Homo sapiens: one gene and its partner. The protein of the gene in region 2 interacts with the protein of the main gene of each other region in a biochemical or structural test. Each region holds a gene or a part of one and is shown on either strand. Other genes may lie near its edges.

The links. Proteins that work in one complex are often made in the same cells at the same time.
Region 1: the proteins of ANAPC2 (region 2) and PTTG1 form a complex in vitro, tested with the Homo sapiens proteins (2 studies listed by BioGRID, with this or other methods).

What each region holds. Positions count from the first base shown.
Region 1 is NC_000005.10:160,417,047-160,424,854, reverse strand, and holds the start of PTTG1 (securin), read right to left. Parts: upstream 3,001-7,808; 5' UTR 2,964-3,000; intron 2,946-2,963; exon of another isoform or gene 2,554-2,945; 5' UTR 2,543-2,553; coding exon 2,452-2,542; intron 2,147-2,451; coding exon 1,962-2,146; intron 619-1,961; coding exon 525-618; intron 1-524. Other genes in the region: pre-mRNA-splicing factor SLU7, read left to right, coding at 5,802-5,832. UniProt on the Homo sapiens protein: Regulatory protein, which plays a central role in chromosome stability, in the p53/TP53 pathway, and DNA repair. Probably acts by blocking the action of key proteins.
Region 2 is NC_000009.12:137,174,269-137,178,573, forward strand, and holds the end of ANAPC2 (anaphase-promoting complex subunit 2), read right to left. Parts: intron 3,849-4,305; coding exon of another isoform or gene 3,800-3,848; intron 3,514-3,799; exon of another isoform or gene 1,570-3,513; coding exon 1,440-1,569; exon of another isoform or gene 1,248-1,439; coding exon of another isoform or gene 1,205-1,247; coding exon 969-1,204; exon of another isoform or gene 887-968; coding exon 674-886; 3' UTR 516-673; downstream 1-515. UniProt on the Homo sapiens protein: Together with the RING-H2 protein ANAPC11, constitutes the catalytic component of the anaphase promoting complex/cyclosome (APC/C), a cell cycle-regulated E3 ubiquitin ligase that controls progression through mitosis and the G1 phase of the cell cycle.

The DNA of each region.
Region 1 (7,808 bases), on a different chromosome or scaffold from region 2:
GCCTGACACACAGTAGCTTCTCCTGAAATGGTTGAGTAAATTAAAGCTTGAAAAGCTGTTTCCAAAACAGAAAATACTTCAGATACATGTAGCAGGTTGAAGAAATTTGAAAAACATGTCTTCACTGTCTTATGTAGATTTTTCAAACCAAAGAAATAATCCTACCAAATTACTCTCAGGCATTGCTCAACTTGACATAAAGCTCACTTCTAAAAGCCTTGTGAGAAAGACTGTCCACAATGGGACTTATTCAATGTTCATGAATACATCTTACCTCCTCTAGGTGATAAGCTTTTACAGACAGGAACAATGTCTTCTACATCTTTGTTCCTATTCCCCTCCTGACCTAAGATGATACCTTGCAAATAATTCCATCAACAAGTACACTTGTCCAAAGCAACCCAGATTCAGACAGTCTCATCATAGTTTTTGGTCATATATTATATTCATAACAAGTTACAGCTGAGCTGAATACTAAGAAACTAAAGGCCAAAAGCACTTTTCGCAATTGCAAAAGATACTACCTAGAGGATTGAAGGGAAAGAATTTTTCTATTTCTGGATAGGCATCATCTGAGGCAGGAACAGAGCTTTTTGCTTTAACAGTCTTCTCAGTCATCTAGAACAGCCAAAGAAAATATGGGTTAGTGACAGTGGAAGTCTTATTAGCTGATTAGTTTTTAAATTTGTCAATTTCATGCTGCCTTCTAAGAAGCCATAATCCTTAGTTTTCATAATTGCACCTAAATATACTTCAAATAATATGATTCAAATGTAATTCGAGTAGCATGACTCAAAAGTTAAAATCTGAAATTTAAGTACCAGCACCTGTCAGCATAAGTGATCAAGAATGCAGTTAATTCAGAGCTAATCAATGCAATTATTCAACCTAACAGAGGAGAAAATGGGCATGAATCACCCAGGATAGTAGCTAATCATCAAAGCCATTTTTGGCTTATAGGAGTGTGATTTTTTCCACAAGTGTTACCTTAAATTATTTGCTTGGTTAATATTAAAAACAAGTTTGTGTTCCTCAAATACACACACTGAGTAAGAGGCAGCAAGACACTGTCAAGGACTTTAGAATAAACACCATGGGCAATCTTCTAGTCTGGAGTTGACAGGTCTACTACAGTCTACTATAGAAGGGTGCTACAATGGAAGCCGGCATGTTCCTGCTTTATCTCACCTCACATATGCATGCCTAGAATTCCCTATGGGGTTCTCACACTTCGGTTCTGTGTCTCATTGTTTTTGCCATGTCTTTGCAATTCCTGTATTTAATATTTTTCTTTAAGTTAATTCACTTTTTAAAGAAGACATCTTTGTCCTAAGTTGCACTATATGTAATTCACTAGTTGTTTCCTAATGCAAATTAAACAAAACAGTTATTCAAATAAAGTGTTAATCCACATGCTAATGTCATCTTTCACAGCAAAGTCCTCTCATCTGGGATACACAGACCTGTAGCTTGTGACTCACACTCACACGAAGATCAACATGCTAGCAAATTGTCACCTAACAAGCTGCTGCTTGCCCTGGAAGGCTAAGAGAATGGCAGCACCTGTGCTATTAAAGCAGCAACAGAACCTCTTAAGGCACCCTCTCTCTCAGTATGTATCTGTAAGTGGATACCACCAACCAGTTTCTCTTAAGGCACCCTCTCTCTCAGTATGTATCTGTAAGTAGACACCACCAACCAGTTTCACGACACTAGTGAAGGACAGGTGAGGCAAAAATATGCATGAGGCAAAAATATGCATTAGCTGCATCTGAGATTTCCAATCTCAAGGTACCAAGAAGTCCACAAGGACAATCTGAGTCTCCTCCACTACTCTGCTTGCTAACCTCTATTTCCCTTCTACTCAGAGGGAAGAAAGCTACGTAGGATGATGCCAATAGTCATTTTAAGAGTCAAAAGTGCTTAAGTGTTTAAACAGTGTCTTTATAGCCAACACTTACCTTTTTGGCAGAAAAGCTTGGCTGTTTTTGTTTGAGGGGTCCCTTGGTCTTTACAGACTTTTCTGTAGCTCTGTTGACAGTTCCCAAAGCCTTTCTAGTAGCTTTAGGTAAGGCTGGTGGGGCATCGAACGTTTTGCCAAAACGTGGTGTTGAAACTTGAGATCTCCCATCTAAGGCTTTGATTGCTGAAGAAAAAGTCTTACCATAAGAATATTCCAGCAGCAAAATACCTGTACAACTTAAATACTGTGTATATAAACTTGACCTCTCACCCCCAAACCCACCCCCCACTTTTGGTAGTGGCATGGCTATGATAGGCCTAATAGCAGAGATTCAGTAACTTCCTTAAATCATCTCATTAAGATATTAAAAATGAAAAAGGACCAATAACAAACGACTCCAATTGCCCAAAAAGTACACTAAATGTCTCGTCCAGCTCCAGGCCACGTCCACAATACCAGTGTATCCGACTGCAGCCTTGTATACTTACAAGGTCCAGACCCCAGCTTCAGCCCATCCTTAGCAACCACACGGGTGCCTGGTTCTCCATTTTCCTTATCAACATAGATCAGAGTAGCCATTCTGGATTATTCTAAGAATGAGAAATACATATTAGATATTGGGGAAGGTGGGAGAAGCAAAGGTATAGCAACATACCAAACTTTCTATCCTAGGAGTGTCCACACAAAAAACAAGAGCTAAACAGCGGAACAGTCACGGGCGTGAGCCAACAAGTACTTAATCCAGCTCTCAAATCTTCCAGCCTGAGTCAGAGGCTCTAAGGTCCCGAGCAGCGCGCGGTTTGGGGCTGGCACTCATCAGACAGTTGCCGTTGGTCCAGTTAGCAGTCCGAGACCACGCTCAAACGGGCTCGGAGCCATCTAAGCCCCGGGCAGTCCCCCAACCCCAGCCCCAGCTTCAGCCCCAGCCGCAGCCGCAGCCCGCCTCCTTCCCCGCCGGAGCCGGCTCAACTAACCACCCGCGACCCTCCCATTCACTCACGCAGGTCTTAACAGCCGCATTCATCTGAGGCCGCGGTGAACGGACGCGGCGCACTCCTGGTTTAAACCACAACTCGCGGCCCAATTGGCTCTTCCGCCCAGGAGGCGGGGCCGTGGGCGTGGTCACCAAGTAGAACCAATGGAAAGGACCTAAGCAGCCAGGGCTCCGCCCCAAAAGCTCTTTCTTGCAAACTTTGTGGCACGTTTTCTGGGAAGAAAAAACTAGGATCGTGTAATATTAAAAAATAAATCGAGAGGCTTTTTTTTTTTGCTCTCCATATTATTAAGCTGCATGGACTGAGGTACTGACTCAATAACAATGGTTTATTGCTTTAAGATATTTTTATTTAGATGACCCTGTAAAAAGGATGGAAAATAAATAGAAATATTGAAGAAATAGGGGAAACAACCAATGTTGGGTCTAAAGAATACTAGCAGAGAAGAATTTAAAATTAAGAAGAAATGTAAGTACAGGTAGATCAAACAGCAGCGTTTGAGTCATTCTCTTATGCTTATGATTAAGAACGAACTGATCGTTCCCTAATCTTAGGACTATCCTCAATACTTCAGGCTAAGACACTGTTTCTATTATACCATCACGAATCTGTCTTAGGAACAAAATTATGATTCTAATGAATACATAATTTAGTCTTCCCTTAAAATTCTATCCTTTGATAGTGATTTATTTTAAACCTCTAACATCTCAATAATATATTAACCAAAGTTGCCTGGAAGGGCTTGGCCAGGGAGCAAGAGAATATCAGAGAGATAATAAAGATATAAAAAAGGAATTCCAATTTCCCAGATATGAAAAGAAATTTTGCTTGAAAAAGTTGACGACCTTTTCCTGTTTCTATAGTAAAATGGAATACATTGAACAACTACAAGATGAAGATATAAATTAAAACATAAGGCTGACCTGTGTCATTCAAACTCCGCTTCCCACAGTTCACCATATATGCATTTTAAGCTGCAGATCAGCTGAGAGAGAGGAGTTGATTCCATATTACTCTTTCACGAAAGGCTTGACACTATACCTGACATAGACATGGTTCTCAATATATGCCAGTTCATCATCTCTTTTTCCCTGGCATTTCAGGACCAATATTGATTGAATGATTCATTCATTCACAAATATTTATTGAATACCTATTAAATGCTGGACATTATACTAGGTTATAAGAAAAGAGCCTAACTTAAGGTGAAGAAAAGAGGAAAGACAGAAAAATATGCATACCTTTATTGTCCCTTCACTGTTCTTTTTCCTTTATCCCCATCCTTTATTTCCTCCTGTATCTCCTAAATTTTACATCATCATATTATATTATCAGCACTCAAAGTGTTAATTTTTAAGACTAAATCTGCACAACACCTATAGCTTCCAAGTGGGGATTCTCTATCTACAGAGGTTTTGAGGTGCAAGGTTTGTCTTAGGATGTCTTCTTTTTTTCACCAACAGAAAGCATTGTTTCTCCTAAGGTCATGCAGCAGCTGTAAACCATAACCACCCTCTCTGAATAACCACTGTTTTCTTACTAATGATGCCCTCAGACCAGCTTTGCTATTCCTATTACTGGAAATACTCAATTGCTAAACCACCCTCACTCATAACAGCACTTAGTCCCTAATCAGTTTCTCCCAATCCTTCTTTACAAACAGCAACCCATCCAGAACCAATCCCGGCTTTCCTAGACCTTCCTCAGAACCCTCCAGAGGGACCTCAAGTCTTAGAAAAGATTCAACTGTCTTGTCCTGCGCTTTCTGATTCCTCTTCGAGATGCGCTCTCCTGGTGGTTTTGGCTAATTAGGCCTTAACACTCCTAAGCAAATTTCAGGAATATTTTTAAGTGGAAAAAAACAAAGCCTGAGTGATTCATAGACTCTATTCACTTTCACGCTAGTCTCTGACACTGTTTCTTCATCTACTGCCCTGTAAAAGCAAAATTAATATTTATGTTCCTAAACTCCAGGTATTGCAAATTCTTAATACGAAAAAAATAGATTCTATTATGTTGGGCTATTTTATTGAGGCAGGAATGGTAGCTACTTTTACTTTTACATTCAAAAAGGATACACGTTATGGGGGGGAGGGGGAGAACAACCAGAATAGAAAGCACAAAGAAAAAAAAAAATCACAAGAAATTCTACCACGAAAATTAGTTTATTTTCCAGTGTTTTATTTCACATGTATACTTTTAAAGAAGGGATGGGATAGCATAGATACTGTTTCTCCAAAATGGAAATTGTCGTATTTTTTTCTAATGATAACATGCCTTATGTTCTCACAGCACCTGGTATTCTTTTCATAGCAACTTTTCACAGCTGCTAAATCTGAATAGTTGTTTCGGTGTCTTTCGCACTCTGATGTAAATCTGAGGGAAGACACTGTTCACCAAATCCCCAGCATGTTACACAGCCTGGCTACTAATTAGTGCCAAGTTTAACTGCTTTTTTTTTTTTTTTAAGCTGATACGTCACCAACTTCCCCATTCATTTCATAGTCCCCTGGTGAGGCTTAAGCTCTTGTCTGTTCTGGTCTTTTTTTTTTTTTTTTAACTTCCTAAAATTCTCCGATTCTAAAAGAAAGCTCCTAAATAGAAGCCAAAAAGTAGCCGCCCAACTTGAAACTCCCCACAAGCCGGGTAAATAGCGCGATACGCAGCAGCTAGAGTTCTCGCGTTTCCCACGGCGCAGGAGCACTGGAGGGCCCCCCTCCGCCCCCGGCCCCGCCAGGAAATTAGTGCGCATGTGCCGGTCATCCGGAAGTTACCGCAGTGGCCGCCGGAATTAGGCGAAAAGCCGGAAGTAAACATTACGAGATTGGCTTGGATTCTGTCGGATGGACTTGGGGCTAGCTGCGGCGGGGCTGGGTAAGAAAATATTGTTAGAACTTGCGGGCGACGGGGAGTTGGGGAACCTGAGAAAATGAGTCGAAGGCTCCTAATTATTGGATATATCTTCACGGGGGTGATGAGCCCTCAGGTGTTGAGGGAGCGAGGACGGGGGACCGAAAAGCCACTGTCCTGAGACCCATTCATGGCACTCGTGCCCTGCCAGGCCAGGCCTGCGTCTTCAGGGAAACAGTCGGGATAACTATGAGAGTGTCGCCTTTGTGGCGGTGCCTCGAAGACCTTGAGCAATCCCCGGACTGCGAGCAGGGAAAGCTGCTTCCAGTACCCAAATTGACAGACTGTATTTCCTCGCCAGAAAAATTTACTTGAGCTTCAGTTTTTCCTGTTAAGTCGAGATGATCCGACTTCAGTGGGGTATCATGCGGGTATAAATGAAAACATCTATGTAAGTAAAGCGCTAAACAGTGTCTTACGTAAGCCCTCAGTAAGTGGGAGCTATTACTGTTTTTAGTTGGAGAAAATAGGTCCCTCCACAGCGACGGAAACTAGTGCGTACAACTTGGTGACTATAATACTTTATTCAGTTTTAGTTTTTAATATTTTAGGCCCAGAAGCCAATGTTCTGTGGACAAGTATAACATACTGGTTTAGAGAACTGACTTTGGAGTCAGAGTTGTGTTTGAAGTCCTTATTTCTTACTACAATGTGTTCTTGGCTGAGGATCTTACCTCTCAGAACCTGTTTCTTCACTGTAAAATGGTGTTCATCAGACCTATCTACTGGGCTTATTGTGAAGATTAGATGAGGTGATACACGGTAGGCTCGAGAAATGGTAGCTGTTTTAATAAAGATTAAATTTACCGTTGTTGTGCTTCTCTTCGCAGTATATTTAGGCCATCAGTTTATATGTTACACAAATATATGTGGAGGTTTTCTATAGGTCAGACATAGAAGAGAACACCTTTGAGAAGCATCGTAGACCCCCAGGCATTGAGCACTTTCCACTGGGAAAGAGCTTGTGTAAAGGCCCAGTGTCTACAGGGAGCACGGTTTGTTAGAGGAACTAGAGGAACTACAAGAAGGTCTATGTAGTTAGTAGAGAAGGAAGCGGGGATAGTTGTAATGGTGAGGCTGGAAGGTAGGCAGGTGCCAGACCATGGTGGACCGTGTAGGTGTGTTAAAAAGATGTCAGTTTTTAGAGTACGAATGATAAAATCCTTTGGAGCGTCATTTTTTTTTTTTTTTTTTTGAGACGTAGTCTAGCTCTGTCGCCCAGGCTGGAGTGCAGTGACGCAATATCAGCTCACTGCAATATCGGCCTCCTGGGTTCAGGTGATTCTCCTGTCTCAGCCTCCCGAGTAGCTAGGATTACAGGTGCACGCCACCACGCCTGGCTGATTTTTTTGTATATGCTTAGTAGCGACGGGGTTTCGCCAGGTTGGCCAGGCTGGTCTCAAACTCCTTACCTCAGGTGATCCGCCCGCCTCGGCCTCCCAAAGTGCTGGGATTACAGGTGTGAACCATCGCACCCAGGTGTCACTATTCGTTATGATAGTTATTAGCCACTTGTGGTTATTGAGACTGGAAATGTGATTAGTTTAAATAAGTGTAAAACCCATATCAACTTTTAAAGACAGAGTTGTTTTTTTTCTAATTCAAATTTGCAATTATAATATGTTGGATATATTACATTAAATAAAATCTTGTAAAAGTAATTTTACCTGTTTATTTTTACTTTTTTAATGTGACTACTGGAAAACATAAAATTACATGTGGGACTAGCATTGTATTTCTCTTAGATGGTGCTGTATTGAATTTTTGGACGGTACTGCATTGGAGGATTTTAAGCTTGGGCAGTAGGACATTGTATTAATCTGTTTTCACATTGCCAATGAAGACATAGCCCAGACCTGCCAATTTACTAAAGAAGTAAGTTTGTTGGACTTAACAGTTCCACGTGGCTGGGGAGGCCTCACAAACATGGTGAAAGGTAC
Region 2 (4,305 bases):
GGAGCAGGGGACAAGTGCCCAGTCCCTCTGGCCACCAGGGCACAGCCTTCGGCAGAGCCTCACTGCCAGAGACGAGGCGTGTTGGCCTAGAGGTCATTCGCCAGCCTCAGCAATTCCAACCGAACCCGCACAACGTCCCAACCTCGCCCGAGACCTCCTGGCCGAGCGTGTGGAGGTGGGCACAGGCTGAGCAGAGGGTGACCCCAGGGCTCCTTCTAAAGGCCAGAGGCGCAGGAATGGAGCTGGAGGTCTGGCGGGTAGCAAGCACTAAGCCCTAGGACGTGGCTGCCTGAGCCGTGGCCCGGGCGTGACGTGGACCTTCACGTGCCGCTCCCTGAGCACCCTGGGTCGGGGGCGGCCCGGGATTCTCTCAGGAGGCTACATTCCCAGTGCAGATGTGTAGGCCTAGGTGGCCCCTCACCTGCTGCTGAGGAGCAGGCCCTGCCAGGCTGAGAGAGAGGCCCAGGCTAGAGGAGGATCCTGGGGGGCCCCACAAAGCCACCAGGACAGAAAAGGATGATCTGACTTGCTTTAATCTGCACACTGCGGGGGTGGGGGTGGGCATGCTCCTCAGCAGTGCATTCTGGGACACGGGCGGGCGGGGGCTGGCACGGGAGGACGAGAGCACCTGCAGGGCAGCGCCTGGCGGGCGGGCGGGCGGGCGGGCGATGTGTCAGCTGCAGTTCTTGGGCAGGCGGTAGACGCCGGCCGAGTAGACGAGCTGCTGGTCCCGCACCTTCTTCTGCAGGTAGCCCTGCAGCTCCTGCAGGTCAATCTCGGCCAGTGCAGGCCCAGTCACCACAAACATGCGGAGCATGTTGTAGATACGATCCAGTGAGAGGCTCTCCAGGTTGGTCAGCATGGCCTGGATGTACGTCCAGAAGAGCTGCGGACACAGGCCAGCCCCCGTCAGGCACCTGCAGGCCTCGCCCCCGCCCCCTGGCCCCCCGTGGGGCCTGCACGCGCACCAGCAGCTCCTCCTCCTTCTGGTCGGCCTGGGAGGCCATGCCGGAGTCGCTCTCGTCGTCACTGTCAATGAGCACCATGTTGTCCCGGTCCTGAGGCCGCTCCTCCTCAATGACAGAGAAGGTGCCGGGGGGCTCCTCACGCAGCACACCCTGCTGCAGCCACACGGACATCCGCCGCCGCAGCAGCGCCACGGGCATCTTCACCGCCTTGCTCAGTTCCTCCAGGGTCCAGCTGGCTGCGTGCAGAGTCACCGGGACGCTGGGCAGCCTGGGCACGGGCTGCACCTCCCCTGCCTCCCGTCAGCCGAGAGGTCGGGGGGCTCCCGGGCCACCCTGCCTTGCCCGTGGGAAAGGGAAGGGTGCCGCCTGCTGGCGCAGCTGCCCCAAACCACACCCTCACTGGGGAACAGCCCCTCACCCACAGCTGGGCCGTGTGGCCGGGGCAGGCCAGCTAGGGGCTGGTGGGCTCACCTTGGTCCTGAAAATACAGCAAGATCACCGCCTGTACTGGGGTGACCGCCACAGACAGCGTGCGGTCGGCCAGCTCCACGTCCATGGTCACCAGGCCCAGGGTGTGCTTCCAACTGAGGGTCCGCATGGCCTAAGGAGGGCCAGGGTCAGCACGGGCAGCTCGGCTGCAGGGCGCTCAGGCCCGTGGGCTCTGCCACCTGGTACCAGTGAGAAAGGGGCTCCCAGAGCCACCTGCCCCACCCCACCCTGGCAGGCAGGTGAGCAGCGAGAGCACAGGACTGGGTGGGGTCCCCACCTGCTCAGCCACCATGGAAGGGCAATGGGGCCAGCATCATAAGGTGTGTCCCGAAAAGGCTACAGGGGCCTCCTGACCCCCAGTGCTTGGAAATGTGGCCATATTTGCAAACAGGGTTGATGCAGATGTAACTGAGGTGCATCCTAACCCAACTGACTGGGGTCCTTCTAAGAAAAGGAAAGATAGGAAGACACAGGCAGGCGGGGAGGGGGCCACACGAAGACAGAGACCACCTGGAGCAACGCGGCCACAAGCCAAGAAACACCAAGGGCTGTGGCAAACACCAGAAGCTGGGGGGCAACGGAGGTCTCTAAGAGGGTTCAGAGGGAACGGGGCTGCCAGTACTTTCATCTTGGACTTCCAGCCTCCAAAACTAAGACAATCTATTTCTGTTTTTTAAGCCACCCAGTTTGTGACACTTTGTTACAGCAGCCACAGTAAACGAACAGATTTTGGTACCAGGAAGGGCCAGGAGGGGTGCTGCCAAAACCTAACACCAAGAACTGTGGCAGCAGCTTTGGAAGTGGGTGATGGGGAGAGGCTGGAAGAACTGGTGAGGCCTGCACGACTGCTGGTAGAAAGGCATGAAGACAAGCCTGGAAATGGCTGGAAGAGGAGAGCTGCCGCCGTCTTGGAGAATGCACACAGCATCACAGACTGGATGTCGGCAGCAATGCCGACCCAACAGGTGCTTCCAGTGAGGTCTCAGATGGAAATGACCGTGCTACTGGGAACCGGAGGAGGCAGCAGAGAGCTTGGCTGGCTGCTGCTCTGCTGTTGGGTGCGAAGTGGGACCTGCAGCTGATGAGCCTGGACATCAAGCTGAGATTTCCAAGCAGTGTGGAAGGTGCCACCTGGCTTCTCCTTGCTACTTATAGCAGAATGCAAGAGGGAAACAATCAGTGAGGCAGGGACCATTAAGCAAAAAGGCACCAGCCCTTGGGGATCTGAAAAATACTCTATCCAGGCAGCTCTGAGACGTGGCCAAGGGTGTGGCTGGACCAGGGTTTGCTAGACATGAGGTGTGACCTGTGTATCCAACTAACCATCTCAGCAGCAGACAGGGACAGGTGGGGCCTCCGGGAAAGGGCTGCGGACCCGCCTGTCTGAAGGCTTCGGCACTGGTGAGCTGCATAAGCCAACAAGGTGTGAGAATTTTACACCCGCAGAAGTGCTGCCAGGCTGGAGTGAAAGGAAGGCAGGCTCCAAGAGCAGAGCCGCCGAGGCCAAGGCTGACGGAGCAGGGGGCCAAAGAGGATTCGCAGGCCTGGAAGTCAAGTGGAATTTCGGCTGCTGGGTTTGGACTCGCTGTCCTTTTTCCTCCCAGTTTTCCCTTTTGGGGTGGGAATGTGTATGCTTGTCTTACGGCTGAACTTTTGAAACAGATCATCTGTTGGCTGATTTCACGGCGTCCCAGCTGGAGGAATGGCGCGCACTCCAGCCTCACCTGTACCTTGTTTAGATCTATTTACGTAGAGGAATGGCGCACACTCCAGCCTCACCTGGACCTCGTTAAGATGCATTTACAGGCTGAGATGTGTGTGGAACTTTGTGTGGATGGTAGTTAGATGAGATTTTGGACTTGGAGTTGATGCTGAAATGGTGAAGACTTTTGGGGACACTGGGGCTGTCACTTGCACGTGGGAGGGGCCCACCATGGGGCAAATTGTCATGCACTGAATTGTGCCCCTCGAAAAATGACACATGAACCCCTAACTCCCGGTGCCTCTGATGAGATCTTATTTGGAAATACGGTCATTAAAGATATAATTAAGATGACGTCACCCTGGAATAGAGAGAGTGTTCTTCTAAGAGGGAGATAGGAACAGAGACACGGGGGAACATCACGGGCGACGCGGCAGAGACCAGAGCGAGGCACCCACAGGCCCCGGAGCTCCTGGAGCCCCCAGAAGCTGGAAGAGGGGAGGAAGCAGCCTCCCCTAGAGCCTTCGGAGGGCCCTGCTGACCCTGACTTTAGACTTCTGACTTCTGTAAAATGATATGTTTCTTTTAAGCCCGCTGGTTTGTGGTACTTTGTTCTGGTAGCACTGGGGCACTGACACACCTGCTCTGTGGGCCAAGGGCTCCTGAGTCCTTCCAGGATCCGGCAGCTTCTAATGGAAACAAACCCCTCTTTATGGACAGAAAATGGAAGTGGAGTCAGTGGCTTGCTAGGTCCTAGTTCTGGCTCCAAGGCCATGACCTCCACAAACGCCGCCACTGGTCAGCCTGCCGCAGGACACATGCAAGGGCTCAGGGGTGACGCTGTGGGCTGCATGGCCAGCCACGTGTCCAACAAGGTCGCTCGGCCAGGAGCTCTGCTGGTGGGACCTCTCAGCACAGCCCCGGGGCCTCCCTGAGCCACTCCTGTGTCCCACTGAAGTTAAGACAAAGGGCACTAGAGTGTGGCTGTCCCAGCACATCAGGCCTGAGCAACAGGAAGTGGCTGAGTCATGCCTGGGACCCAAGGCAGGACCCTGGAGGGAGGCCATTGGGGCCTTGCCTGGAAGCAACGCTGGAGAGCCTGAGGCAGCCAGAGGGGCAGGGGGAAAGGGACCGAGCACGGAGCCG